7 separate regions of the Homo sapiens genome follow, and regions 1, 2, 3, 4, 5 and 7 are each linked to region 6. The links come from fine-mapping of genetic effects on plasma protein levels. Region 6 holds a variant in brackets. A gene starts in each other region. All regions are shown on their forward strands. Region 1 holds the start of ERBB3 (erb-b2 receptor tyrosine kinase 3). Region 2 holds the start of MST1 (macrophage stimulating 1). Region 3 holds the start of A1BG (alpha-1-B glycoprotein). Region 4 holds the start of IGSF9 (immunoglobulin superfamily member 9). Region 5 holds the start of FGF21 (fibroblast growth factor 21). Region 6 overlaps GCKR (glucokinase regulator). Region 7 holds the start of MAMDC4 (MAM domain containing 4).

Evidence for each region. PIP is the posterior inclusion probability: the model's chance that the variant is causal. Protein levels are from antibody-based Olink assays in UK Biobank. Linkage for the fine-mapping came from a reference panel and not from the study's own genotypes, which makes the PIPs less certain.
Region 1: it holds the start of ERBB3, and the variant in region 6 is fine-mapped to the plasma level of the ERBB3 protein (UK Biobank, PIP above 0.99).
Region 2: it holds the start of MST1, and the variant in region 6 is fine-mapped to the plasma level of the MST1 protein (UK Biobank, PIP above 0.99).
Region 3: it holds the start of A1BG, and the variant in region 6 is fine-mapped to the plasma level of the A1BG protein (UK Biobank, PIP above 0.99).
Region 4: it holds the start of IGSF9, and the variant in region 6 is fine-mapped to the plasma level of the IGSF9 protein (UK Biobank, PIP above 0.99).
Region 5: it holds the start of FGF21, and the variant in region 6 is fine-mapped to the plasma level of the FGF21 protein (UK Biobank, PIP above 0.99).
Region 7: MAMDC4 starts here. The variant in region 6 is fine-mapped to the plasma level of the MAMDC4 protein (UK Biobank, PIP above 0.99).

The regions. Positions count from the first base shown.
Region 1 is chr12:56,078,114-56,082,234 of GRCh38, forward strand. ERBB3 (erb-b2 receptor tyrosine kinase 3) reads left to right here and starts at 2,052. Exons shown (of 28, transcript NM_001982.4): 1 at 2,052-2,269. The coding sequence starts at 2,188. RefSeq lists an enhancer at 1,709-2,699.
Region 2 is chr3:49,687,856-49,691,976 of GRCh38, forward strand. MST1 (macrophage stimulating 1) reads right to left here and starts at 1,619. Exons shown (of 18, transcript NM_020998.4): 1 at 743-1,619; 2 at 1-42. The coding sequence starts at 836. It overlaps RNF123 (ring finger protein 123), which reads left to right and starts at 1,702. Exons shown (of 39, transcript NM_022064.5): 1 at 1,702-1,751; 2 at 3,275-3,392; 3 at 3,570-3,654. The coding sequence starts at 3,311. RefSeq lists an enhancer at 973-1,532.
Region 3 is chr19:58,353,316-58,356,274 of GRCh38, forward strand. It overlaps A1BG (alpha-1-B glycoprotein), which reads right to left and starts at 177. Exons shown (of 8, transcript NM_130786.4): 1 at 89-177; 2 at 1-12. The coding sequence starts at 122. It overlaps ZNF497 (zinc finger protein 497), which reads right to left. Exons shown (of 3, transcript NM_198458.3): 3 at 1,042-2,959. The coding sequence ends at 2,824. It overlaps A1BG-AS1 (A1BG antisense RNA 1), which reads left to right. Exons shown (of 4, transcript NR_015380.2): 2 at 64-159; 3 at 399-542; 4 at 1,054-1,868.
Region 4 is chr1:159,943,460-159,947,580 of GRCh38, forward strand. IGSF9 (immunoglobulin superfamily member 9) reads right to left here and starts at 2,154. Exons shown (of 21, transcript NM_001135050.2): 1 at 2,114-2,154; 2 at 1-169. LOC124904438 (a long non-coding RNA gene) reads left to right here. Exons shown (of 3, transcript XR_007066684.1): 2 at 2,693-2,993. RefSeq lists a silencer at 2,140-2,434 and an enhancer at 2,277-2,777.
Region 5 is chr19:48,753,846-48,756,069 of GRCh38, forward strand. It overlaps FGF21 (fibroblast growth factor 21), which reads left to right and starts at 1,679. Exons shown (of 4, transcript NM_019113.4): 1 at 1,679-1,939; 2 at 2,046-2,224. It also overlaps a transcript of FUT1 not described here. RefSeq lists enhancers at 901-1,766, 1,767-2,224, promoters at 1,282-2,224, 1,391-2,224, 1,517-2,123, 1,555-1,646, 1,592-2,224 and cis regulatory regions at 1,403-1,963, 1,598-1,610, 1,638-1,646.
Region 6 is chr2:27,506,248-27,510,368 of GRCh38, forward strand. It overlaps GCKR (glucokinase regulator), which reads left to right. Exons shown (of 19, transcript NM_001486.4): 11 at 234-332; 12 at 541-638; 13 at 988-1,064; 14 at 1,434-1,530; 15 at 1,730-1,827; 16 at 1,921-2,004. Among named protein-coding and RNA genes, the nearest start is that of GCKR, 11 kb to the left of the region's middle. The variant T/C (reference allele first, on the strand shown) is at 1,826.
Region 7 is chr9:136,849,750-136,853,084 of GRCh38, forward strand. MAMDC4 (MAM domain containing 4) reads left to right here and starts at 2,597. Exons shown (of 27, transcript NM_206920.3): 1 at 2,597-2,713. The coding sequence starts at 2,668. It overlaps PHPT1 (phosphohistidine phosphatase 1), which reads left to right. Exons shown (of 3, transcript NM_014172.6): 2 at 264-388; 3 at 1,006-1,275. The coding sequence ends at 1,098.

The DNA.
Region 1 (4,121 bases), not on the chromosome of region 6:
GAGATGGCGTCTCACTCTGTCGCCCAAGCTGGAGTGCAGTGATGCAATCTCAGCTCACTGCAACCTCCACCTCCCGGGTTCAAGCGATTCTCCTGCCTCAGTCTCCTAAGTAGCTGGGATTACAGGTGCCCACCATCATGCCCAGCTAATTTTTGTATTTTTAGTAGAGACGGTGTTTCACTATGTTGACTAGGCTGGTCTCGAACTCCTGACCTCAAGTGATCTGCCCGCCTCGGCCTCCCAAAGTGCTGGGATTACAGGCATGAGCCACCGCGCCCAGCCGAATGTTTTGTTTTTTAAGATGGAAGATATCCCAGCACTTTGGCAGGCTGAAGCAGGTGGATCATTCCAGCTTGGGCAACAAGAGCGAAACTCTGTCTCAAAAAAAAAAAAAAAGAAAAGAAAAAAAAAGAGAGAAAGAAACCCTAGGTAAAAGTCTGAGCCCCACCTCCCAATCACCTGATCACCTCAACCACTGTCACCAGGTGGATGACCTTGGAGAGGTCACACACTTCTAGTTCTGTAAAATGGGGAGTTATATTGCCTAAATCATATAATTTTTATGTTAAGTGACACATTCTCTAAGGCACTAAGTTTGAGGACATACTTTGTAAATGAAATGATATATGGAAATGTTTGTATATGTTAATGGTTTTGTTGTTGCTATTATTATTATGACTACTATACACATGGTCTGGAGAAAGCCAACCTCCCCAAAGCGGAGATTCTCCAGTAGAGAACAGGCCCTCTAGGTTGCATATCAATAGGGAGCATGTTTAAGGAATGTTAGCCGGTAGTCTTTGCTAGGTGTGAGGGGTGAAATTTTTCTTTATCAAGGCTCAACTGTTTTCGAAGTCTTCAGGCTTGAAGTTCTGGAGAAAACAACTAGGCTCTCCGGGCGAGATCCCGAATACCAGTTTAAGGGATTTGAAATGCAAGGCCGTCTGGGACTCCACTGCCACGGATGGGCACCAGGCGGCGCCGGTCGGATCCGTCCCGGGACTAGCAGGGCTTTGGGCAGCAACCCGCAGGGAGCCCGACCGCCTCTGGCCAGGTCCGGGCAGCTGGTGGGGGAGGTTCCAGAGGTCCACGCCATTCGTGGACGCAGTCTCTAGTGTCCTCTCCGCGTCCCACTTCACTGCCCCATCCCCTTTCCTGCGAGAGCCTGGACTTGGAAGGCACCTGGGAGGGTGTAAGCGCCTTGGTGTGTGCCCATCTGGGTCCCCAGAAGAGCGGCGGGAACTGCGGCCGCCCGGACGGTGCGGCCAGACTCCAGTGTGGAAGGGGAGGCAGCTGTTCTCCCAGGCGGCCGTGGGGGGCAGCAGAGGGGACGGCGACAGGTGCGGGAGCCCCTCCCGGGGTAGAAGTGGAAAGGCGGGCTCCGGGGTCTGTTCCCAGGCTGGAAACCACCCCCGCCCCCCATCCAAATCCCCGGGAGAGGCCCGGCCGGCGCCGGGTCTGGAGGAGGAAGCGGCCAGAGACAGTGCAATTTCACGCGGTCTCTGTGGCTCGGGTTCCTGGGCTGGGTGGATGAATTATGGGGTTTCGAGTCTGGGAGAAACTGAGGTGGCCTGGACGTGAGGCAAAAAACACCCTCCCCCTCAAAAACACACAGAGAGAAATATTCACATTCTGAGAGAAAATCCACCAAGTGAACCAACCGGCTAGGGGAGTTGAGTGATTTGGTTAATGGGCGAGGCCAACTTTCAGGGGGCAGGGCTTTGGAGAGCTTTCCACTCCCTCATTCATTACCCTTCCCTGGATCTGGGGGCTTTCGGAATCTCGACCTCCCCTTGGCCTATCTCCTGCAGAAAAATTAGGGTGAGCCCCATCCTCGATCTGCTCCGCCAAGTTGCGGGACCGCGGGGCGTGGCACGCTCGGGGCAGGCGGTCCGAGGCTCCGCAATCCCTACTCCAGCCTCGCGCGGGAGGGGGCGCGGCCGTGACTCACCCCCTTCCCTCTGCGTTCCTCCCTCCCTCTCTCTCTCTCTCTCACACACACACACCCCTCCCCTGCCATCCCTCCCCGGACTCCGGCTCCGGCTCCGATTGCAATTTGCAACCTCCGCTGCCGTCGCCGCAGCAGCCACCAATTCGCCAGCGGTTCAGGTGGCTCTTGCCTCGATGTCCTAGCCTAGGGGCCCCCGGGCCGGACTTGGCTGGGCTCCCTTCACCCTCTGCGGAGTCATGAGGGCGAACGACGCTCTGCAGGTGCTGGGCTTGCTTTTCAGCCTGGCCCGGGGCTCCGAGGTGGGCAACTCTCAGGCAGGTAAGTGGCGCGAGAGCACCGGCGGGCTCGGCACCTGGGAGCCGGAACCCAGTGCGCGCAGCCTCGGAGGGTATGGGCACGGTCTCAGGCGGCGCGGGGTTGTGGGTGCTGCCCCCGGTTTGCCAGGACCACCTGGGAGAGGGGCGGTCAGGCTCGGGTTATCGGCGTGGTCCGGCCGAGGGCGGCATTCCGGGACCCTCACGCCACCCTTCTCCAGAGCGTCGCCGACCCTCTAATTGGTCTCCCCAGAAGAGGCTGAGGCCGAAACAGTAGTTCACACTTCTGAGGGGCCCTGCAGGGAGGGGAGCAGGGAACTTCATTCTGTAAACAGGAGGTGCTTGGAGGTGGGGGCCTTGGCGGGAAGGGTCTCGGTTTGCTCGCCAACCCCCTGCCCCCCACCCGCGCCGATTTCAGCTACCCCTAGTTTCGTTGTTTTGCCGACAGGGCGGAGCTACAGAAGGTTGGAGGGGGTTGTTGTTCTCTGGTGTTGGAAAAACAGGAGCGGCACCTCCTCTTCCGTGAGTGAGCCTGCCCTGGGGAGGTCTGAGATTAACCAGAGGGCCAAGTTCAGGTGACATCAGGCAGGAGGCCCAACAGAGGCTGGCGCCCCCTTTCCTCAGTATAGCAGAGCTTAAGCAACATCTCTTTGTCAAGACCCAGGTCAACACAACTCATATTTATTGAGCATCTACTATACACAAGGCCCTGGGCCAGGAGCTGTAAGGGCAAGGATGTCCAGCCTCTGGTCTTTTCTCTCCCCAACCTGAGGATCAAGAGGGCACCTCTGCTACTTTCTAAGCCTCCTGCCTTGGGGAGTCCTTCCTGGGCTCAGCTTGTGCCTCCCGCCCCCATTTTGCTTATTGTCTGACACTGTCTCTAGGACCCTAGACAGAGCCCCGGATTGCTCTTCTCCAGTCCTCCCCCGACTCCCATGCTATCTGAGCCCACCCCTTTGGGGTGTCTCTGGGACCGTGGACACCTGAGGACTGAAGTTCTGTGGATCTCCTCCCCTCCCCTCAGATCTCAGCTTGGGGTTTGGCACAGCCAGGGCCCCTTCCCCAGTGTGGGAGTGGAAGAAACCACCTGTGCTTCCCTCACAGTTGCTGGGCCTAAATTTAGATCCTGGGATTTTTAGATGTGAACACTCCCAGCTGGTGGAGGGGGGTGGTCTGGGGACTGGCGTGGGAGGGAGCAGTGGAGTGACTGTATAACTGTCCCATCCAGACTCCTGCAATCTTCACCCAGAAACCCAGGAGTACCAGAGTCTGGCCACCCTCCCTGGGGAGGCAGGAGGCAGGCATGGTTGGGTCTCTTTACCCTTTATCTGGGTCCTGCAGCCTCTGGGCATCCGGCCCTGTCTCAGTCCTTCTATAGCCCCTTTGTCCTGGCTGTGATGGGGGTGGGGGATGTTGGAGGGGAGGCCTCTGGTTGAGGAGGGGCTGGAGATTCTGGCTCTATCCCACCCCTAGTGCTCTCTACCAAAGGAGGGCCTGTGACACTGCCCCTCCCTATGCTCCCGGTTCCTGGGTACAGCAGGGATTTTTATGATTCCCTTCCCCTGCCCTGCTCCCCAAGCTGCCTAGCTCCTCCCCAGAGGTGTTGTTTGTGCTCCCTTCCTGCCCAGGCCCTTTGCCCCCTGTTTGTGTAATATGGACTTTACCCTCAGGGTAGCAGGGAACTGGGCTACCTCTAACACTGTAGCCTTCCAAGCACAGACACAAAGTCTGCACAAACACTTATGGGCACGTGGGATAGATGGGGCCACCTGAAATACTTCCTGCAAGGAAACCCAACTATAGATTCCTGAGCCAGCAGGACCAATGTGTACGTGTTCGTGTGTACATTGTGTGTG
Region 2 (4,121 bases), not on the chromosome of region 6:
TGCCCCGGAGCACTTGGAAGTCATTCAATGGCGAGCGCTGCCCTGCAGAGTAGGCATGAGTGGGTGCAGGTCAGGTGGGCATACATGTCAGTAATGTGTATTGGCATGTCCACACTTTGTTCATTCAGGGGATCAAAGCTACAAGGCTTCTGGGATGGACCCTGTATGCACTTTCAAGGGCCAGTCTAGCCCCCTGCACAGATACTTGTGAAAAAAATTTCCCCTGGGAAGCAGGCCCAGACTTGGTAGTTATCACCGGTGCCTCTGTTTAGTGGCCCAGGCACCGGGCTCAGATCTAACACATACGCTCTGTGAGAGCAGTGGGTGATGAAGCTTGCCCCACCTCATCTCTCAAATGAGAATGCTAAGGCTCAGAGCCATCACATTACCCAGCCAGGGGCCCTGGCTAGGCATTCAGACTCCAAATCTGGGCTCTCACCTGCACAAAGGCATATGCTAGGTTAGAGGGGTAGATCAGGCTCAGGAGGGGTCACTGCCTGCTGTGTGCGTGCATCTGTGTGGTCCTGACACTGCTTCAGTGCTAGAGCAGACGTGCTAATAGAGGCCTAAGTGGGCAATGTCTATGTGTTCCTAGGGCTTCCCAGCTGTGCTCAAGAGGGCAAGGTCACTGCCCCATGCCCACTGAGCCTCTGGCTCCCCGACTTTTTTCTCATCCTAGAATAGGAGAATGGGGCCAACCCCCTCCTGAAGGCAGATGGGGATCAGGGTTGGGGGCACTTACCAGGGACCCCTAAGCATTGAGTCAGAAGCAGCAGGAGTGGGAGCCACCCCATCCTTCTGGCTGGAGGCTGCACTGTGACCCACCACAGCCCCATCCGGGAAGTTGTGAAACCTGTCCCTACGGGATTGGGTGGCTCTGGCTCCACACGTCAGCTCAGGGCCTGCTGGACCCTGACCTGAGACCTGGTGACAGGAGCCATGAGGGGCCAGGCCTCAGGTCCCATAGGTCAGTTGCAAGGGCCTAGTACAGCTTAGTGGACAGGTGTTAGGAAGGTTTGGTGGGGACACTTGAGGTGCCCTGGGGTTGGGGTGAAACCCCTCTGCAGCCTAGTCAGCCCAAGGGCATTGTGAAAGTGAGAGCTGCCAGAGGTCTGGGCTCCAGCCCCTGGGTGACATTAAACTTTTCTGAATTTCGGTTTTTCCCTGTAAATTGGGGAAAATTACTTGCCCCAGCTTCAACACTGCCTCCCCTCCACCCTTTTGCTGCTGCCTTATCAGGCCCCAGCTGTAGGCAGGTCAGCCCACACCCGGCGGCAGAGCCCAGAGAGGCTCGCTCATCTCAGCCGCCAGAAGTGTCATCCCAGGGAAGGTGAGCGAGGCTGTCCACTAGGACTAAATAGGGGTGGAGGTAACAGGTAGCAGGGACTCTGGCAGGAACGGCCTTTCAGACGTTTTAAGGACCGTCTGAGCGGGGCCTCTAAGTATGGGTAGGAGACAGGCGGCCTAGGGATTCCGGTTAGCATGTCGCGTTCTGCCGCAGCAGGGCTGGGAGCATCCCCAGAGCAGGCGGAGGTCGGAGGTGGTGAGGCCTTTCGGCGAAGCTGAGGCCTGGAACAACCCGGTGGGAAGCCATGGAGGGGGTCCCCTAGCGGAGGCTGGGCGCGGGCCAGTGCGCGTGCGCGGCTGGAGGCTCAGCGCGCAAGCGTGCGCGTGATTTGGCCCTGAACGGACGCCGTAGCCAAGAGGTTGGGCGGATGTTGTGAGCCGGGTCGCTGCGGCCGAGGCTCCGGGTGAGTGAGGGGCGGCAGGGCTCTGAGCCTGGCGGGTTCCGGCTATTCCCTTCGCGGTCCGGGCTAGTCCAGTGCGAGGGCACCTGCAGCGCAGGGATCTGGGTGCGAAACTCCGAGCGGAAGCTGGTCTGGCAGGTCCTGTGGAGCTTGGGGCCAGGCGGGGGCGACTTGGGGGAGCCATGCGCCGCCCTCGCCGTCCTTGGGCTCCCAGACGGAGTAGGTTCAGTTCTGAGTCCGGATACCCCGGCGGGGTTGGACGGGATAGCCGTGACAGGGAGTCCCCGGGCGGGGACAAGGTCCGCCTCTCACCTGGGTCCTCAGCAACTGACTCCCGGAGCCCACTCCGGGTGTCTGGAAGGTCTGCTCATCAAATGAATGACTGAGTTTAATCAGATCTTCAACTACTCTGGTAGTGAAGGGGCACCGATCATGGACGCCCACCGAGGGCCCGAGGTCGGGAAAATCACCTTCCCGAGGAGCAGGCGTGGTGCAGACCCACAAGGGTTTGTGGCGGGAGTAGAGGGTCTGTTTGGGGTGAGATAAGAGACTGAACTGCAGAGTAGGGAGTGCTGGCTAAGGCAGTGCTGCAGAGCGAAACTCTAGACCTGCGCTGTCTAATAGAACTTTATATGATGGTGGGAACGTTCTACCTTTGTGCTGTCCAACAGAGTAACCATTAGCCACATGTGGTCATTGAACTCTTGAAATGTGGCTAAGGCAACTGAGAAATCGAATTGTTAATTTTTAAAACTTTAAATTTAAGTAACCTCATGTGGATGACGGCTGCTGTGTTGGACAGCACCGCTACACATCAGTGAGGCCAGCACCAGGGACTCAGTGCAGGTTCTGGAGCAGCTGCAGCAGCAACATGATGTGAGGGATAGATGCACTAGGAGGACCAATGGAGTTTGCCATGAGGGCTGGGCAAGGGTGGTGCTTGGATGAGGTGGGAGGCCACATGTGTGAGTGGGAATGGTGAAACTATCAGGACCATGGATAAAAGAAGGGAGGAACCCAGGGCTGAGGAAAGAGGCTCCAGCCTTGTGGGGAGTAAGTGGGACTTATGGCTAGAGATGACCAGACCAGTGGTGGTCTGCACTTGGGGGAATGTGTAGGATTGTCGCTTCTGGTTGTGAGCTGGACTCAGTATGGCTTACAACTGAGATGGATACAGGGGCTCTGCCCCTAGGACACCTCACTTTGGACATTTTGGTCTGATTTCCACAGAGCTGAGACATTTTGTTATGGTTCGGCAAAAATATATCTAGTACCTGCTCTCTGCCCAGCCCTGTGCTGGGCACAGGGACACTGGAGAACAAGAAGTGGTCCCTGTTACATGGGCCTAGACCCTGGCTACCCTCCCTGTGTAGGAAGCTGGGAGCCCCTGCATTCCCCTGCCCTATGTGTTAGTGTGCATGCCCCTGGCCTCACCTGCTCCCAAGCCTTCCTGCCATGGCAGGACTGAGGTCAGGTGTGGGGGCCCCTGGCTGGCCCTGAGTAGACAGGCTCTGTGTCTGGCTCAGCCCCCAGGACCACTGGCTGCCCATGAGAGATGAAGGATGGCATCCAAGGGGGCCGGCATGTCTTTCTCCCGCAAGAGCTATAGGCTGACCTCAGATGCTGAGAAATCCAGGGTCACAGGTAAGAGCTGGCAGGGAAGGAAGGAGGCTCCTCTTGTTGGGAGGAGAAGGAAGGGACAAAGGCCTCAGGCCTTGCTGCACCTGTGGCTGGCCTAGGACCAGAAGTCTCTGGGGCCAGCAGGGGCCAGGAGCTGCACTGATCATGTGGCCCTTTTCTCCCTTCTGACTTGTGGCTCAGGCATTGTGCAGGAGAAGCTGCTGAATGACTACCTGAACCGCATCTTTTCCTCTTCTGAACATGCACCCCCAGCAGCCACCAGCAGGTATGGCTGGGTGGGTGGCCCCTCCTCACTCTGCTGGGCCAGACCAGAATAAGGAGGCTGCAGTTGTAGGGAAAGGGAGCCTGGGCTCTGGACAGATAGGCTTAGGCTCTGTTCTCACTGTGCTCCTGGCTGCGAGATCTCTGGCCAGAGAGTCTGCCTTCCGTACTCTGCTTCTTCCTGTCTCCAGGCAGTGCTAGTTCCTTCTGAGAGTCAGGGAGCAGAGGTCAGGGAGCGGGTGCACATTCATGCCCAGCTAGCACCTGGCACCTACTCCATACCCAGCATCTGCCCCTGCATGTACCTGCCCTCACCTTGGCCCCAGCCTGGCCCCTTGTAGCTTCTGACTGACCTTGTAAAGAACAAACTCCTCCAGGGCCTTTTCTTTACAAGTTTAATACTTTTAAGTGTAGTCAGTATAAAAGTTACAAGTACATTTTAGCAGAAACTTAGAGGGCCAGGCACAGTGG
Region 3 (2,959 bases), not on the chromosome of region 6:
CCCAGGTGACACCTGCGGAGACAGCCCCCGTAAGGCTCCTGTTCCCGCCCCCTCCCGCCCCAGGGACCCAGACCCCAGGAGGCCTCACCCCACAGCAAGAGAAAGACCACGAGCATGGACATGATGGTCGCGCTCACTCCGGTGCAGTGAGTGTCTGGGGTGAGCGTCTGCAGCAATGAGGCCCCAAGGGAGGGCGGTGGGGTGGCTCGGGCACTGACCTCTTCCCGTGTTTGTCCTTCCCGGAAGGCGGGGGCAGGGCCCCCATGGGGTCAGGGCAAAGGGTGAACTTCTGAGGCCTCAGGATGCCCAGCAACAATTATAATCAATAATCATGTATGATTAATAAACTAAATCAAGAGTGATAAAATGATGTTAAAACCACCTCATCCTCATTTCAGTGATGGATCCTAGAACCTGTTCTAGAAGGAGACGCTGAGTTCTCCCCACTCTACCTGGAGCTGCTGAGGTCAAGTGGAGAGTGCCGGGGCTGAAGCCCAGCGAGCCCCTCCCTGTCACACCACACTGCACATGTGACACCAAAGGTGGGGTTCACCTCTTTTCAGACTTTCTGCGGTTGCCCTCACATGGGCTGTCTGGAGGTGCACCCTCACTCTTCCTGAGGACTGTGGTTCCTTCTCCATCACTGGTTCATTCTGCATGGTGTGACCCACCACGGCTCTGGAGTCGGATTTCCACCCAGGTCATTCAGCTGAGACCTGCGCTTCCCAGGCCTACCCGTGACATGTGCTCAGTTACCTGAGCTGCTGGTGGTCACTCATGTGGCTATAGCCTGCTGCCTGGAGGCCAGGCCTCCCGCTTCCCCTGCCTCCCCCTCTCCTCACCACAGCCTGTTGGGATGGAACAGGACAGGGGTGAGACCGTGGTGCTTTCACACTCAGCCTCCATGGACATCCTGTCATTCCCACCCGGGGAGGTCTGGTCCCCACCCTGGGTGTCCCAGCCTAGCTCCGCTACGAGTGTGAGGGCCCAGGGCAACCGCCTAGCCCTCATCTGCCCCCTGCACTGCATCCTCCCCACTCATTCATTCCACAGGCATTTATTGAGCATCTACTGTGTGCCAGATGCAAAGAAGACAGTGGGATAACTGGGCAAGGAGCATTCCAGGCAGAGGGAACAGCCAGTGCAAACATGGGAGATGCGGGTGCAGTGAGAAGGAGCAGAGGAGACCAGGAGTTGAGGCGACTGCAGAGCGATTGCAGAGCTCATAGACGTGATGAAGACCAGCTGGGCACTGCAGCGGCTCTGGCTTCTGCTGTGAGGGACGGGGAGCTGTGGAGACTCCCTCTGTTTGGTCCCATTTCCATATTGCTGAGCACCTGCTGCATGCTCTCTGTCCTGCTCAGAGCCAGTACCTGGATGGAGGCTGTGTGTTCTGGGTGGACTGGGGGAGAATGCATTCTTTGCAGAAGAGACAACCAGGTGCTGAGGCCTGAAGTCATAACCAGACCTGGGGCACTCAGACAAGGACTGGTGGCCAGGCCAGAGGAGCAGAGCTCAGGGTGTGCACAGAACTCAGAAGTCAGACCACTGAACAGTGACAGAACCTTTCAGCCCATTGGCAATGAGGCTGCCCAGGCAGCCAGAGGCCTGGTCAAATCTGAGGTCTGCAGAGATGGAGCTGTCATTCTGTGTTTCCTTTGGCAGTCCCAACACCAGCCTCGTTGCACCCTCCTCTTAGCTTCCCTGGGTTCTCCAGCCCTAAGGGTGGTAGCAGCTTCCTGCAAGTATCCAGCTCTGAGATTCTGCAACATCCACTTTTGCTCTCTGAGCCTTGCAAAACCTGCACAATCAGTCCCTAACTTATATCCCCTCTGTTTGAAATACCTAGTGTGGTTTCTATTTCCTGACTTGACTCTGACTGGTGTGGTACTTGGTATAAAGAAGGTTCCCTGGCCAGGTGCGGTGGCTCACGCCTATAATCCCAACGCTTTGGGAGGCTGAGGCAGGAGGATCACTTGAGCCCAGGAGTTTTGAGACCCGCCTAGGCAACATGGTGAGACACTGTCCTTACAAAAAATTTTAAAATTAGCCAGGTGTAGTGACGCAAGTCTGTCATCCCAGCTGCTTGGGAGGCTGAGGTGGGAGGATCACCTGAGCCTAAGAAGTCGCGGCTGCAATAAACAGTGATTGCACCACTGCACTCCAGCCTGGGTGACAGAGTGAAACCCTGCCCCCTCCCCCAAAAAAGAAAAGTCCCATGAAACAGACCTACACAGGTGAGATTCTGAGATTGATCTGGTTCTGACCTCGGTCAGGAATGCAGTGCTGAGCTTCTTGCCAACAGAATATGAGACACTAGAAAGCCATAGCATGCGGTTTCATCATGTTTAACTGTCACCTGTGGTTGCCTGAGATGAAGTGCTGACTGAAGCGAGCACCTTAGGAGACACAGTGGCCACTGCACTGAGCAGCTGGTAGCAGCAGTGGTGACCATGTGGACTGGGGGGTGGGTTGGCTGCTTTTGACAGTGCCAGAGAACTCAAAGAAATAGCCACACCTGTCGGAGACCCCAGTTCTTGCCCACCTCTGCATGGACGAACCTCTCGCCGAAGTGGAGCCTGCCGCCCTCCCTGGGGTAAGAGCCCATCCTACATGTCCCCAGACAGGCCTGGGTGGCCGGTGGACTATCGTCAAAGGGACTGTGCAGCCAGGGTTCTCCACACCCAAGGCCGCCCCTGCACTCCCAGCAGGAGGGCGCCCGCACCGGCGGCCCGAAAAAGTCTGGGCCAGCAGACAGCGCACTCACGCCCGAGACCCCGCAATGCCGTGTGTCCGCGACCTCCCGCTCAGGGCGTCCTCGGGTCAGGGCGCAGCGCGGCCCCCGTGCCGCTTCTGGTGCTCGTTGAGGTTGCAACGGTGGCTGAAAGGCTTCCCGCACTCGCCGCAAGCGTAGGGCCTCTCGCCCGTGTGCGTGCGCCGGTGGCTTAAGAGCTCCGAC
Region 4 (4,121 bases), not on the chromosome of region 6:
AGCTGGCCTGCTCACCCAGCCCCTCCTATCCACAGGAGCCCAGATGGAGGGGCCAAGGGATGTCCTTCTGATCAGCTCAGGGAACAGGTTTCAGCTCTCACTCTTCTGTACAGTGAGGGCTTGGCTCATGTAACACCCGAGGAAGCTGCTCTCCGGAGAACCACCAGATCTAAATGAAAAGTACAAGGCAACATGCAGAGTTGGCCAATACTGGAGCCCAGAAGAAACCCCACCATTAGAGAAAGGCACTGGGAAGAGAAAGGAGGGAGGAGTGTAGTTAAGTGAGGGGTAGGGGGAAGGGGGGGATCTTGAAGCCCTGGGGAGTAAGAGCAGGGGTAGGAGTACTGGGAGAATGGTGAGTGCTGAATGCAGATACTAGAAAGGTGAGGAAATGGGGGAGGCTGGGAGAGTTGGGAAGGTCTTAGGAAATGTGGAAGGATTCTGGGGATGCCTGCATTCTGAGGGTCTTGAAAAACTAAGCCAGAAGAGAACTGGGGTTCCTCATATGCTTGGAAAAATATTTTTGAAGGAAGTATGGTAGATCAAGACTCTCATGGCCTAGGCTGCTCTCGCTTCTTTCCTTACTCTTGATGCTCACAAGGTATAGCAGCAAGATGGAACCAGTGCTGTCGCCTTCACCCCTCTGTGACAAATAAGGGCCCTGAGGATATCTGCTCAGGGGCAGAGAGCCAGTCAAGGGCAAATCCAGGGCGCTTAAGCCTCAGAAAGTGGTCCCCAGGACACCCCGATACAATCCCTTGTCCCATTTCCCCAGCCTCTATGAAAAACTCTGGAAGCTGAGGACCCGAGGCCTTTCTCCATTCAGTCTCCCTACACTGCTTTGGCAGTGAGTGAGTCAGGCACTTGGGAGAGGAGGAGCTGCCTCCCCCACCTGCCAGTATGGGGGATCCAGGCAGCATCCTCCAGGTCTGGACAGGTCCCGGGGCTGGCAGCTGGCGCCACTTCCTCACGATACTGCCAAGCAGCCCTCCCCCTGCCAGGCACCACCACCCAAGGACCTCACCCAAATCCCTCCCACTCACTCCCCTCCAATATCTTCGGGGTGCCAGGGTTTGTCAAGCTCTTTCTTCCCCAACCCCAGAGGCATGGTCCAAAAAAAAGCCTGTGAGTCCCTGAAGTGTACAAAATTAACCCTGGGGCATGGAGGGTAGGAGCTTCTGACAGCCCCACAGATCCTAGGGCAGTCTCAGAGAGCCAGAGGGTCCATGCCAGGGCCTGGCACTGCCAAGTGGACTCTGCTCTGAGTCCTCCAACCCACTCTTGGCCGCAAAGTTCAGGACAGACTATAAAACATCCTCCACAGAGTCTGATCCTTGCCTCTACTTAATGATCCTGTATGTCTAACTTCTGGCAATTCACTAGCAACCAAGCCCCCTGTTTCCCACTGCCTCCAGGCAGCTCTCCCACACTTCCCTGAAAAACCTTTTTCCAAGTATATAGGAACCCCCTAGTTCTCTCCTGGTTGTTTTCCGAGACTCTGAGTAACTAGGCATCCCTAGAATTCCTCCCAGTCTCTTAATATCTTTCCAACTCCCCCGGCCTCCACTATTTCCTCACCCTTCTAGTCTCCCCACACACCACTCCCTCGTCCTCCCATTACTCCCTTCCCAGTTATCGCTACTACGCACAATCCCCCCACAATTCCAGCTTCTCGCACCTGATCTCCAATTGCAGCAGGTCTCCTGCACTATAAAGAACTCCCTTCTGGTCTCCCCACCCCCCAGCCACTTCTCCCCATCCTCTCCTCCCGATAATTCCCCTCCCTGGGATTCTCCTGCATCAGCCCACAATACAATTCTGATACCCCACCCCCAACAATTCCTTTCTCCCTCGCATTCTCTGGTCCCCTGGAACTCCTCCTTTCTCTTAGAACCCACCAAGAACTCCCCCACATTGCCTCCAGAACTCCTGCAGTTCTCCGGGAACTCCCACCCACCCGCCAAGAATTCCACTTCACTCCCCAGAACTCCCCTAGTTCTACTCCTGCAACGAATTCCACTTCTCTCTAGAACTCCCCGCTTTCTCCTGTCCCCCATAACTCCGCACTACCAGCACCACCACTTCTATACCTCCAGTACGCCCCCTCCCTCACCTGCTCCGCACCGCTCGGCTCCACTCTCGCCGCTACACAATAGGGGGCGGACCCGCCTCCCCGCCTCGGATGCCCCGAGCGCCTCCCGTCGCCCTGGAGACCGCCAATCCCCCTCCCGCGGCGGCCAATTGGAGCCGCCAGAGGCACGGCGAGGCGGGCGGGACCCCTGAGCGGCCTGGGAGTTGTAGTTTCAGGAGGGAAGAGCTCGGCTGCACGTGGGCTCAGGTCGCCCCCTCGTGGACCTCTGCACAGCCAAGCGTGGAAAGGCCGGTGGGCCGCTTCCCGCCGCCAGCAAGAGGGGCAGCAGGGTCCGGCTCGCGCTCCAGGGCTGCGGGAGCTGGCCCCTTGCCAGGCTACTGGTACGCCGTCCTTCTTTCGGAACCTACGGGCGACCCTCTCCGCTCCCCGAACGGGCGCGCCACAGAGGCGGCAGCGAGGGTTGAAATCTGAGCCTGGGGGTAGGAGAACCAGGCGGGGAGCATGACTCCCCGCCCTCCTCCCAGGGGATCCACCCAGGTCCCGGGCTCATCCGATCTCCTCCCCCATCCCCATTTCTACCTCCACCCATTGCTTCTCTAGCAGGACTGGAAATACCTGTCTGCATTGGCGAGCTCCCAAATCTTGCCCAGGCGCCTCCCACCGTGTGCAGCTGAGGAAGGCTGTGCTCTGAGCGTGGGGTTGCCAAGTCAGCTCCCAAGGCAGCTCTGGCACCAACGACCCAGAGAAACAGGCCCAGAGGGGAGAAACGACAGATATCCTGACACGGGAGATTGAAAGGGAGGAATGAAATACAAGATCACTTACTGGACCCATGCAGGGTGCCAGACCCTGGACTAGATGCTTTATAACTCTTGTGTAACCTTCACAGAAACCCTGCGAAGTAAGTAGAGCTCCCTTTGACTAATGAGAAAACTGAGGCTCAGGGAGATGAAGTAACTTGGCCCAAGCTTTCCCAACTAGGTTATGGCAGAGCTGGATTGAGACCCAACCCAAACTTCATCAAACCTACTCCCTTGGAGGCTTCGCCCTCAGACACAAAGATATCTTGCATATCTTGCCCCTCAGAGATTCCACCTCCTCAGCCTGGTGATGCTGTAGGGATGCTGGGTCGGCTTAAGCAACATTGCCTGTCCAGGTCCTTCCCATTCAGTTGGCTCCCTTGGAAGCCTTCCATGAAAGCAACGTGCTGATCTCATCCCAATCCGAAGTACTAAGACTCAAACTGAGTGCACCAGGCATCAGACTCACAGAATCACTGCTGCAGCATCATGAGAGAACCTCCAGGATGGGCCTAAGCACTACTTGGCCCCAGAATCCCTGGCACATCATTTCTCCATGTAGTCATCCAAGCCCCTATCTCATTACATCCTGGGCCAGGAAGCTCAGCACTACTGTTGTACCCATTCCATCCTTAGTAAGCTCTGCCTGCTGGACAGTTCTTCCAGGTGTAAAGGTTTTAGTGCTTTTGGGTGACTGAGATGGAAGGGAAGAGGCAGGAGCAGTGGGCCAGTCTCTCCCACCATCCCTCCTGCAAATAGTCCCAAAGTAGCAGCTTTTCAACAATGCATTTCAACATAATACCCTGATCTATTGATAAGACTATAATGGAAACATGTTAATGAATGCAGCATGGAAGCAAGGCTAGAAGAAATGGTAAAAGAGTGAAGCGGGTTTTTTGTTTGTTTGTTTTTTTGTTTTGACAGAGTCTCACTCTATCGCCCAGGCTGGAGTGCAGTGGTGCAATCTCGGCTCACTGCAACCTCCACCTCCCGGGTTCAAGCGATTCTCCTGCTTCAGCCTCCCAAGCAGCTGTGATTACAGGCGGCCACCACCATGCCTGGCTAATTTTTGTATTTTTAGTAGAGATGGGGTTTCACCATCTTGACCAGGCTGGTCTTGAACTCCTGACCTCATGATCCACCCACCTCGGCCTCCCAAAATGCTGGGATTACAGGTGTGAGCCACTGCCCCCGGCCGAGCCAAGTGTTTTTTAGTCTTTGGATCTTTA
Region 5 (2,224 bases), not on the chromosome of region 6:
CGTTTTCTTCTCTGCACTTATAAGAAAGATCAAAGACTTTAAGACTTTCACTATTTCGGGCGGGCGCGGTGGCTCACGCCTGTAATCCCAGCACTTTGGGAGGCTGAGGCGGGCGGATCACAAGGTCAGGAGGTGGAGGCCATCCTGGCTAACACGGTGAAACCCTGTCTCTACTAAAAATACAAAAAATTATCCGGGCGCGTGGTGGAGGGCGCCTGTAGTCCTAGCTATTTGGGAGGGTGAGGCAGGAGAATGGTGTGAACCCAGGAGGCGGAGATTGCAGTGAGCCGAGATCACGCCACTGCACTCCAGCCTGGGGGACAGAGCGAGACTCCGCCTCAAAAAAAAAAAAAAAAAGGCTTTCACTATTTCTTCTACCGCTATCTACTACGAACTTCAAAGAGGAACCAGGAGTACGGGAGGAAAATGCAAGAGGACAAGGAGCGTGACCATTGAAGCACAGCACAGCAGGATGACTGCGGGCAGGCCTAGATAATACCCAGCCTCCCACAAGAAGCTGGTGGAGCAGAGTGTTCCCTGACTCCTCCAAGAAAAGGAGATTCCCTTTCGTGGTCTGCTGAGTAACGGGTGCCTTCCCAGACACTGGCGTTCCCGCTTGACCAAGGAGCCCTCAAGAGGCCCTTATGCCGGTGTGACAGAAGGCTCACCTCTTGCCTTCTAGGTCACTTCTCACAATGTCCCTTCAGTACCTGACCCTATACCCACCGGTTGTTTCCTGGTTATATTAGTTATACAACAAAGAATAAAAGTAATAGCTAATGATTAATAATGTTTACACTAATGATTGATACTGTCCATGATCATCTCTATATCTAATTTGTATGATAACTATTCTTATTCTAACTATTTTCTTTATTATACTGAAACAGTTTGTGCCTTCAGTCTCTTGCCTCGGCACCTGGGTAATCCTTCCCCACAGACTGACCCTCCCATTCAAGATACATCAATGTCAAAGACTCAGGAGTTTGACTTGATTCCCAGAAGTTTAACCATCATCTCCCCAGGCTCGGGACTCCCAGCACCCAGACCCTTCTGCTCACACCCAGCAGTCCAGGCCCCCAGACCCTCCTCCCTCAGACTTAGGAGTCCAGGCTCCCGGCCCCTCCTTCCTCAGACCCAGGAGTCCAAGCCCCCTGCCCCTCCTTCCTCAGACCCAGGAGTCCAGGACCCCAGCCCCTCCTTCCTCACACCCACGAGTCCAGATCCCTAGCCCCTACTCCCTCAGACCCAGGAGTCCAGACCAAAGCTCCCTCCTCCCTCAGACCCAGGAGCCCAAGTTCCCCAGCCCCTCCTCCCTCAGATCCAGGAGTACAGGCCCAGACCCTCCTCCCTCAGACCCAGGAGTCCAGGCCCCCCACCCCTCCTCCCTCAGACCCAGGAGTCCAGAGCCCCAGCCCTCCTCCCTCAGACACAGAAGGCCTACCCTTGCACCCTTAGGGGCTCCAGGAAATTAGCCAACCTGTCTTCCCTCTGGGTGCCCACTCCAGGGCCTGGCTTGGCTGCCAACTCCAGTCAGGGACTTTCAGCCACCCCTCCCCCCAGGTTATTTCAGGAGCACCTGCCTGGGCCTGGGATGGCTTCTCTGGTGAAAGAAACACCAGGATTGCATCAGGGAGGAGGAGGCTGGGATGTCCAGGGTCTGAGCATCTGAGCAGGGACAGATGAGGTTGAGGTTGGCCCACGGCCAGGTGAGAGGCTTCCAAGGCAGGATACTTGTGTCTCAGATGCGGTCGCTTCTTTCATACAGCAATTGCCGCCTTGCTGAGGATCAAGGAACCTCAGTGTCAGATCACGCCCTCCCCCCAAACTTAGAAATTCAGATGGGGCGCAGAAATTTCTCTTGTTCTGCGTGATCTGCATAGATGGTCCAAGAGGTGGTTTTTCCAGGAGCCCAGCACCCCTCCTCCCTCCGACTCAGGTGCTTGAGACCCCAGATCCTTCTCTCTGAGACTCAGGAATGTGGGCCCCCAGCCCCTTTCACCTGGGTCCCAGCTAACCCGATCCTCCCCTCCCTCATCCCCTAGACCCAGGAGTCTGGCCCTCCATTGAAAGGACCCCAGGTTACATCATCCATTCAGGCTGCCCTTGCCACGATGGAATTCTGTAGCTCCTGCCAAATGGGTCAAATATCATGGTTCAGGCGCAGGGAGGGTGATTGGGCGGGCCTGTCTGGGTATAAATTCTGGAGCTTCTGCATCTATCC
Region 6 (4,121 bases):
CTGGTGCTTTCCTGCTGCACTCGTCCCTCTTTCTGCTCTTTTGTTTTCTGCCCATTGAAGAAGCCCTTGCTGCCCCTTCGGAACGCAGTCTGGGCCTACTCTCTGCACCTCTCCAGGGACCAGCAGAATTTAGTTCTAAGGGAGCTGTGCCTTCACCTCCCCGCTCAGGGAGGCACCTAAGCTTTCTGAGGGGGAATTGGGCCCTTCTTGAGAGCTGGTGGCTTTTCTCCCAGATGCCTCCTGGAAATCTTGCGGACATTTGAGCGAGCTCATCAGGTGACCTACAGCCAAAGCCCCAAGATTGCCACCCTGATGAAGAGTGTCAGCACCAGGTGTGTGGATATGTGTTTAGAGGTGAGGATGTGGCCCGGATGGAGAATACTGAGAGCAGGGAGACTCTGTGAGACATGTTAACACGGTATGGGCGATAGGATTGCATGTTGAAGGGTCATGGTTTGTTGACTCCTGTGTTCTTCTGTGGACATCTCTGGCCTCTTTGCACGGTGATCTCTCATGTCCTGACCTCTGACCCATTCTCAGTCTGGAGAAGAAAGGCCACGTGTACCTGGTTGGCTGGCAGACCCTGGGCATCATTGCCATCATGGATGGAGTAGAGTGCATCCACACCTTTGGTGCTGGTGGGACCCCAGTCCAGATGTTCTTCCTGCTTCCTCCTGATCCCAACCATTCGGGCTGCTCTCCAAACACTGTCCTACTCCCAACCCATGGGTGTTCCTCAGTGTCCCACCTTCCCTATCTAAATAGGCACTTCAGTCAAATTCTTCTTCCTTAGAACCCCAACTCAGTCCTTGATCCCTTCTCAGCTCCCACCCCTGTGCTTAACTATGGCCTCCCACAAGGGCTACTCCTCACTCTACGCCCCACTTGCCACTTTTCCTCCCAGTCCCATTTTCTCCCCCTGAAGCCTAGAACCTTCCTTTCCTATATAGCCAATCACTCCTCTCTCCTTGTTCTTAAACTTCCCAGATTTCCGAGATGTCCGTGGCTTTCTCATTGGTGATCACAGTGACATGTTTAACCAGAAGGCTGAGCTCACCAACCAGGTCGGAGAAGAACAGGACTTGGGGAAGCTGGGGAGACCACTAGTGTGCTGAGGGTGGAAGAAAAGGGGAAGGCGGAGCTAGGTGGGAAGTTCATTGGAATAGACGGTCCAGAGAAGAGAATATGGGTCAGAAGTCATGAGGCTTTGGCTTAGCATGGGCAGTGTGGAAAGCTCTAGATCCAGTCCCCAAACTTGGCCCTAGTCCACTGACTTGTTACATAATCTTGGGCAAAACACTGTACCTTTTGAACTTCAGCTCTTTCACCTGTGCACAAAAGTGTTAGATCTCCTCCACGGCCCCCTTTAGTCCTCAAGTCTGTGCTTTAGAGTGTTTTCATGGGAGGGACCCTCCCATCTTCTTCTGCCCCAGGGTCCCCAGTTCACCTTCTCCCAGGAGGACTTCCTGACTTCCATCCTTCCCTCTCTCACGGAAATCGATACTGTGGTCTTCATTTTCACCCTGGATGGTGAGAGGGAAGATGGGAGTGGTGAGGGGTGGGGAGGGGGAAATAGAATGGTTCAGAGGAGCTGTTGTTTTTCTGGGTCTTAGGGTACCTGCTCAGAGGGAGGGACGGGGTGAATATCCTGACTGGACCCCAGCCAGGGGAGCAGGAGGAACAGCTGCACAGCCAGCCTTTCGACTCTGATGCCCTCCCCTTCTCCTAGACAACCTCACGGAGGTGCAGACTATAGTGGAGCAGGTGAAAGAGAAGACCAACCACATCCAGGCCCTGGCACACAGCACCGTGGGTCAGACCTTGC[T/C]GGTGAGAGTCCAGCCGTGACAAAGGGACCCAGGTGGCAGTTGCAGCCAGGCCTTCCTGGAGATGCCTCTCCTGCTCCTCTTTCTCTCTCTCCAGATCCCTCTGAAGAAGCTCTTTCCCTCCATCATCAGCATCACATGGCCACTGCTTTTCTTTGAATATGAAGGGAACTTCATCCAGGTATGGGGAATGAGAAGGTCCTATCTGCAGTAAGGGGCTCAGAGGGTGAGGGATTCCAAGAATCAAAAAACCCAAGGCTGTAGGGCAGAAAGTTTGGAGACCTCTCTGACCCTCACAAAGCCAGCTGGGCAAGGTCATGGGTTACCAGGTTACTAGTCAGAATTCCCAAGGCAATGAACTACTGGGCTCAGCTGTCTCTAGGAATATGCAAAAAGTTGCGGGATAGGCCTCCAGTCACCTGACAGATGTTCATTTGTCCTTTGGGACAGGTTAATTATTTTTACTTTGAGACAGAGTCTCACTCTGTCGCCCAGGCTGGAGTGCAGTGGTGCAATCTTGGCTCACTGCAACCTCTGCCTCTTGGGTTCAAGTGATTCTCGTGCCTCAAGTAGCTGGGACTACAGGTGTGCACCACCATGCCCGGCTACTGTTTGTATTTTTAGTAGAGATAGGGTTTCCTCATGTTGGCCAGGCTGGTCTCGAACTCCTGACCTCAAGTGATCTGCCTGCCTCGACCTCCCAAAGTACTGGGATTACAGGTGTAAGCCGCTGCGCCTGGCTGGGACAGGTTAATTCTTGATACCAAAGTCATCATCATTATCCAAAAGCTTTTACCACACCTTTTTTTTTTTTGCAAGTTTACTATGCTGAATTCATTGCAGATAACTTTATGTGCATATAGTCCCTGCTTGCCAATGAATTATAATCCAGCACAAATACTGATAATAATTACAGAAATAATAATCAGTGTGTGTGCTCTTTGCAATTTAGAGCTTTGTGTGGGCATTGGGAGCTCTGGATGCCGGTCTAGCTCTACAGTGTGGCCCAAGAAAGCAAGCAATTTTACATCTCTGGTTCTCAGTTTTCTCATACACCACCTGCCCACCCTCCATGGGCAGAATCAGGGCCCTGAAGGGTTGCTCTGGAGAGATGTGGTCTCTTATTCGTTATTCAAACCATGTCTGTCAGAAGTTTCCTGGCTTGACCAGACACAGCTGAAACACTGACTTACCTGGACTCAGAACTCGTATAGAAGCGGAAGTTTCTCTGCCCCTGAACAGGGAATCCACTCTCCTTCCAATGTCTTTCATTCTTTTTATTTTTTAAAGACAAAGTCTCACTCTGTGGCCCAGACTAAAGTGCAGTGGTGCCATCTCAGCTCACTGCAACCTCCGCCTCCCCTGCTCAACTGATCCTCCCACCTCAGCTTCTCAAGTAGGTAGGACCACAGGCACTCACCACCATGACTGGCTAATTTTTGTATTTTTTTTGTAGAGATCGGGTTTCTCCACATTGCCCAGGCTGTTTGCCAACTCCTAGACTCAAGTGATCCACCCGCCTTAGCCTCCCAAAGTGCTGAGATTGCAGGCGTGAGCCACTACGCCTAGCCAAAACACTGTATTTTTAAAGAAAAATGTTCATTTTAACAGCCATACATTTTTTATAGATACATTTTTTATAGTAAAGACGTTACAAATTACAGAAATGCAAAAAAGAAAAAATCACTCCAAATCTACCATCTTCAAAAAAAAAAAAAAAACACTCTAACAAATTTTGGAGAATGTCCTTTTAAATTTCTATTATATGCATATATAAATATATTTGTACAAAAGTAAGACCATACTTGATATGCTGTTTTAAAGTTGCTTTATGAACATCTTTCTGTACTAATAGATCACCATCATTTTCAAAAATTATTATTATTATTATTTATTTTTATCATGCCGGGACATGTTCTCATCTGATAGATCACTACTATCATTTTTTTTTTTTTTAAGATGGAGTCTCGCTCTGTCACCCAGACTGGAGTGCAGTGGCGCGATCTCCGCTCACTGCAAGCTCTGTCTCCCAGGTTCACGCCATTCTCCTGCCTCAGCCTCCTGAGCAGCTGGGACTACAGGTGCCCGCCACCACGCCTGGCTAATTTTTTGTATTTTTTAGTAGAGACGGGGTTTCACCGTGTTAGCCAGGATGGTCTCGATCTTCTGAACTTGTGATCCACCCGCCTCAGCCTCCCAAAGTGCTGCGATTACAGGCGTGAGCCACCACGCCCGGCCACTACTATCATTTTTAGTGTCAATGTAATATTCCACTGTATAGATGTACCATAAATTGTT
Region 7 (3,335 bases), not on the chromosome of region 6:
TGCTAGGTTTGACCCAGGCTGAGGTCCTGGGCGGGAAGGGCGTGACACGGCCTGACACCCTCCCCAGCAGTCTCCCAGTTCCCGCGCCCTCCCCGGTTCCACCCTCCTTCGCTCATTCATCCCTGTCCCAGCCTCAAGGGGCTTCGTCTCTCCTGGGGAAGGGGCTGTTCAGAGCTGGGATTTCAGACCCCTTCGGCTGGGAGTTCCTCCCGCGGCCTCCAAGGGCGGCCAGGGCACGTCCTGAGGCCGCCCTCCCATCCCAGCGGACATCTACGACAAAGTGTCGGGCGACATGCAGAAGCAAGGCTGCGACTGTGAGTGTCTGGGCGGCGGGCGCATCTCCCACCAGAGTCAGGACAAGAAGATTCACGTGTACGGCTATTCCATGGTGAGCCGCAGCCCCGTCCCGCCCTGCCGGAGGCCCCAGTACCAGCTTCGAGGCCCACCTGAGCCTGCTGCCCTGACCCGTGGCCCCAGCTGAGCACGCAGGCTTCCTGGGGTTCTCCCAGGGTCGGCGGCAGAGCCCTCCCTCCAGGGCCCATTGTGTTCCTGCATTCCCCCATGGAGCACACGCCAGACCTGAGGGGTGGGACGGACACCCCCAGACATGGCCGGCTGTCTCCTCTCCCTGCCTTGGGAGGCCTTGCTGGGCTCTAGCTGTCCTCCAGCACTTTGGGCCCTGGGCCCCCAGAGGCAGTCAGTACCTGGGTGGAGCTCAGAGTCCCCACCTGTGCTCTTCACAAAAACCACCAGCAGATGAGACCCACGTGCGTCCCTCTGGGCGCCTCAGGCCCCAGGATCCACCATCAAGGTTTGCTTGCCTGTGGAGGTCGCCTCTCCCCAGGGGAGCCCCCAAGGGCGGTCGGGATGGTGGGTTTGGCATCCCCAGGCACTGCCTATCCCTTTCCCACACTCGCTTCTGGTGTGGCTGGTGGCTGGATGCCCAGAGCCGGGTATCGGGTTGAAGGGTCCAGGTAGTGCCAGCAGGCGTCTTCTCTTCTCCAGGCCTATGGTCCTGCCCAGCACGCCATTTCAACTGAGAAAATCAAAGCCAAGTACCCCGACTACGAGGTCACCTGGGCTAACGACGGCTACTGAGCACTCCCAGCCCGGGGCCTGCTGCCTCCAGCAGCCACTTCAGAGCCCCCGCCTTTGCCTGCACTCCTCTTGCAGGGCTGGCCCTGCCTGCTCCTGCGGCAGCCTCTGGTGACGTGCTGTCCACCAGGCCTTGGAGACAGGCTAGCCTGGCCACAGAATTAAACGTGTTGCCACACCTGCCGGCTTCTGAACTCTGTCCTTGGCTTCCTGCACCCTGCGTCACCACCTCCGGGGGCCCCCAGACCCTAACTAAAGCAGGTGGGTGGGGGAACACAGGAGTGGCCCCAGGGAGTGGCGGTGCACACTCAGCCCTTTGGGGTCTGATAAAGGGGCCCGCTGATGGCCTGACTGCTCTTCCCACGGCCATCGTCCTCCAGGGCATCTTGGAGGAGGTCTGGCAAGCCCTTGCGAGAGGAGTCAGGGCCTGGTCCCTCGGGCTGGCCAAGACCTGGGGCGCCCACCAGTGCTCCCTCCTATGAGCCCATCCCAGGGCTCCCCAGTGTCCTGTCTGCCCTGAGGCTCCTTCCGTGACCTGCAGGCTCCTTCCATGACCAGCCCCATGGGGCCTACCAGTATCCAGGGTCAGGTCGCACAGCTGCATCTACCCCACAGGCTCACGTTGACTCTGGAGGCCCCTCCCAGGTCCCTCTTGCACCCGGCAGGGCTGTGGGCAGGACACGGGTTCAGGCCTTGCCCTGGGAAGCCCCATACACAGTGGGACTCCATGGGGTGGTGCAGGGGCACCCTGGGGGCCAGGGCTGGTTGTACACAGGGCACCCCCACCTTTGTCAGCTCACTGGTCCTCCGGCCAGCCTCTCCAGACGGGCACTGTCATAACCACATTTTACAGACCGGGACACTGAGGCTCAGTGACACAAGCTCCGAGGTCACACCATGGGAAATCACAAACAGGGCCTGGCCCCAAATGCCACACTCCTTCCCCAGCCCCAAAGACCCTGCCCCAAGCATGAGTCTGCTCCATGAGAAACCGAAGTTTCTGGGCTCCTAGGGACCCTGTATCTGGCACCGGACAGCACCTGGCTGCTCAGGACGAATGAATGACGGCGTGATCCTCCACAGCCTGACTTAAAGGCAGGTTCCCCACGGCTGAGAACGCAGGGACCAGCTCTGGTGCACGTGCTGGACTCCTGCAGCTGCTGGACTGGTTGAGTCCTGACCTTGGCCAGCACCACGCTATTGCCAGAGGCACAGTGAGAGGCCACGGCGGCCTCTGCCCGCCCCACACTGCCGAGCAGAGTCCTGGTGGGGTGCCTGGGTCCCTCCCCATTCCAGTGGGAGCCTCCCCTTCACCAGGCAGGGCAGGGCAGGGTGGAAGAGCCTGACCTTGTGTCTGAGGGAGCCGGGCAGGTGGGAGCTGACCCTGGGTCAGAGGCCCCCTCCTGGGGCCACTTTCACGGCCCATGCTTGGCACCGTCAGCACTGGGTGGGGCCGGGCCGAGGGGCCCTCCACTTAACAGCAGAGTCAGCGTGCGGGGCCAGCGCAGGCTGATAACCGCACGGAACTTCCCAGGCACCCTGTGTGGCCGCACTGCTCCCTCTGGCCCAACCATGCCTCTGTCCAGCCACCTGCTGCCCGCCTTGGTCCTGTTCCTGGGTAAGTAGTCTGGTCCCACTCCTGAGGCAGGACCAGGGGCCCTGGCTTCTGAGCCTACCATCTGTGTGGCAGTGACGGACACCAGGGCTGATGCCTGAGCCCCAAAGGGAAGGAGGGTTGCAAGGTACTACCTTGGCCGGCCTGCAAGGGGGGTGACCTGGAATCAGCCCATGGGGTCCTCGGGCCTGCCAAGCAAAGGAAGAGGCACGACTCCCCTCCCAGTCTGGGACAAGAGGGCTCAGGAGGTGCCCCCAGCTCTGCCAGCCTTCATCTGCCACCCTTGGACTGGGTGGAGCTTGTGGAGGCCCTGGGCCGCCCGTCGATGCCTCCCATTGGGGGTCGCCCTCCCAGTGCCCAGTTCCCTGCTGGGCACTCTGGGTTCCTGCTACCTTTCTTGGGGTGCCCCATGGCCGGGTCCCCCTCCCCAGCCTCTTCAGGGCTGGAAACAGGAACGTGCTGTGCTTGGTCCTGAGCCGGGTGGGAGTTCTCTGTGGGTCCCAGCCCCTCCCTGCTCCATCTCCTGGTCTGAGGGGCATCCCCGGACAAAAGATGTCCAGTGCTAAAACTGAATAGTCCTAGGCAGGCTGGGATGGCTGGTCACCCTGCCCCCAGGCCACCTGGC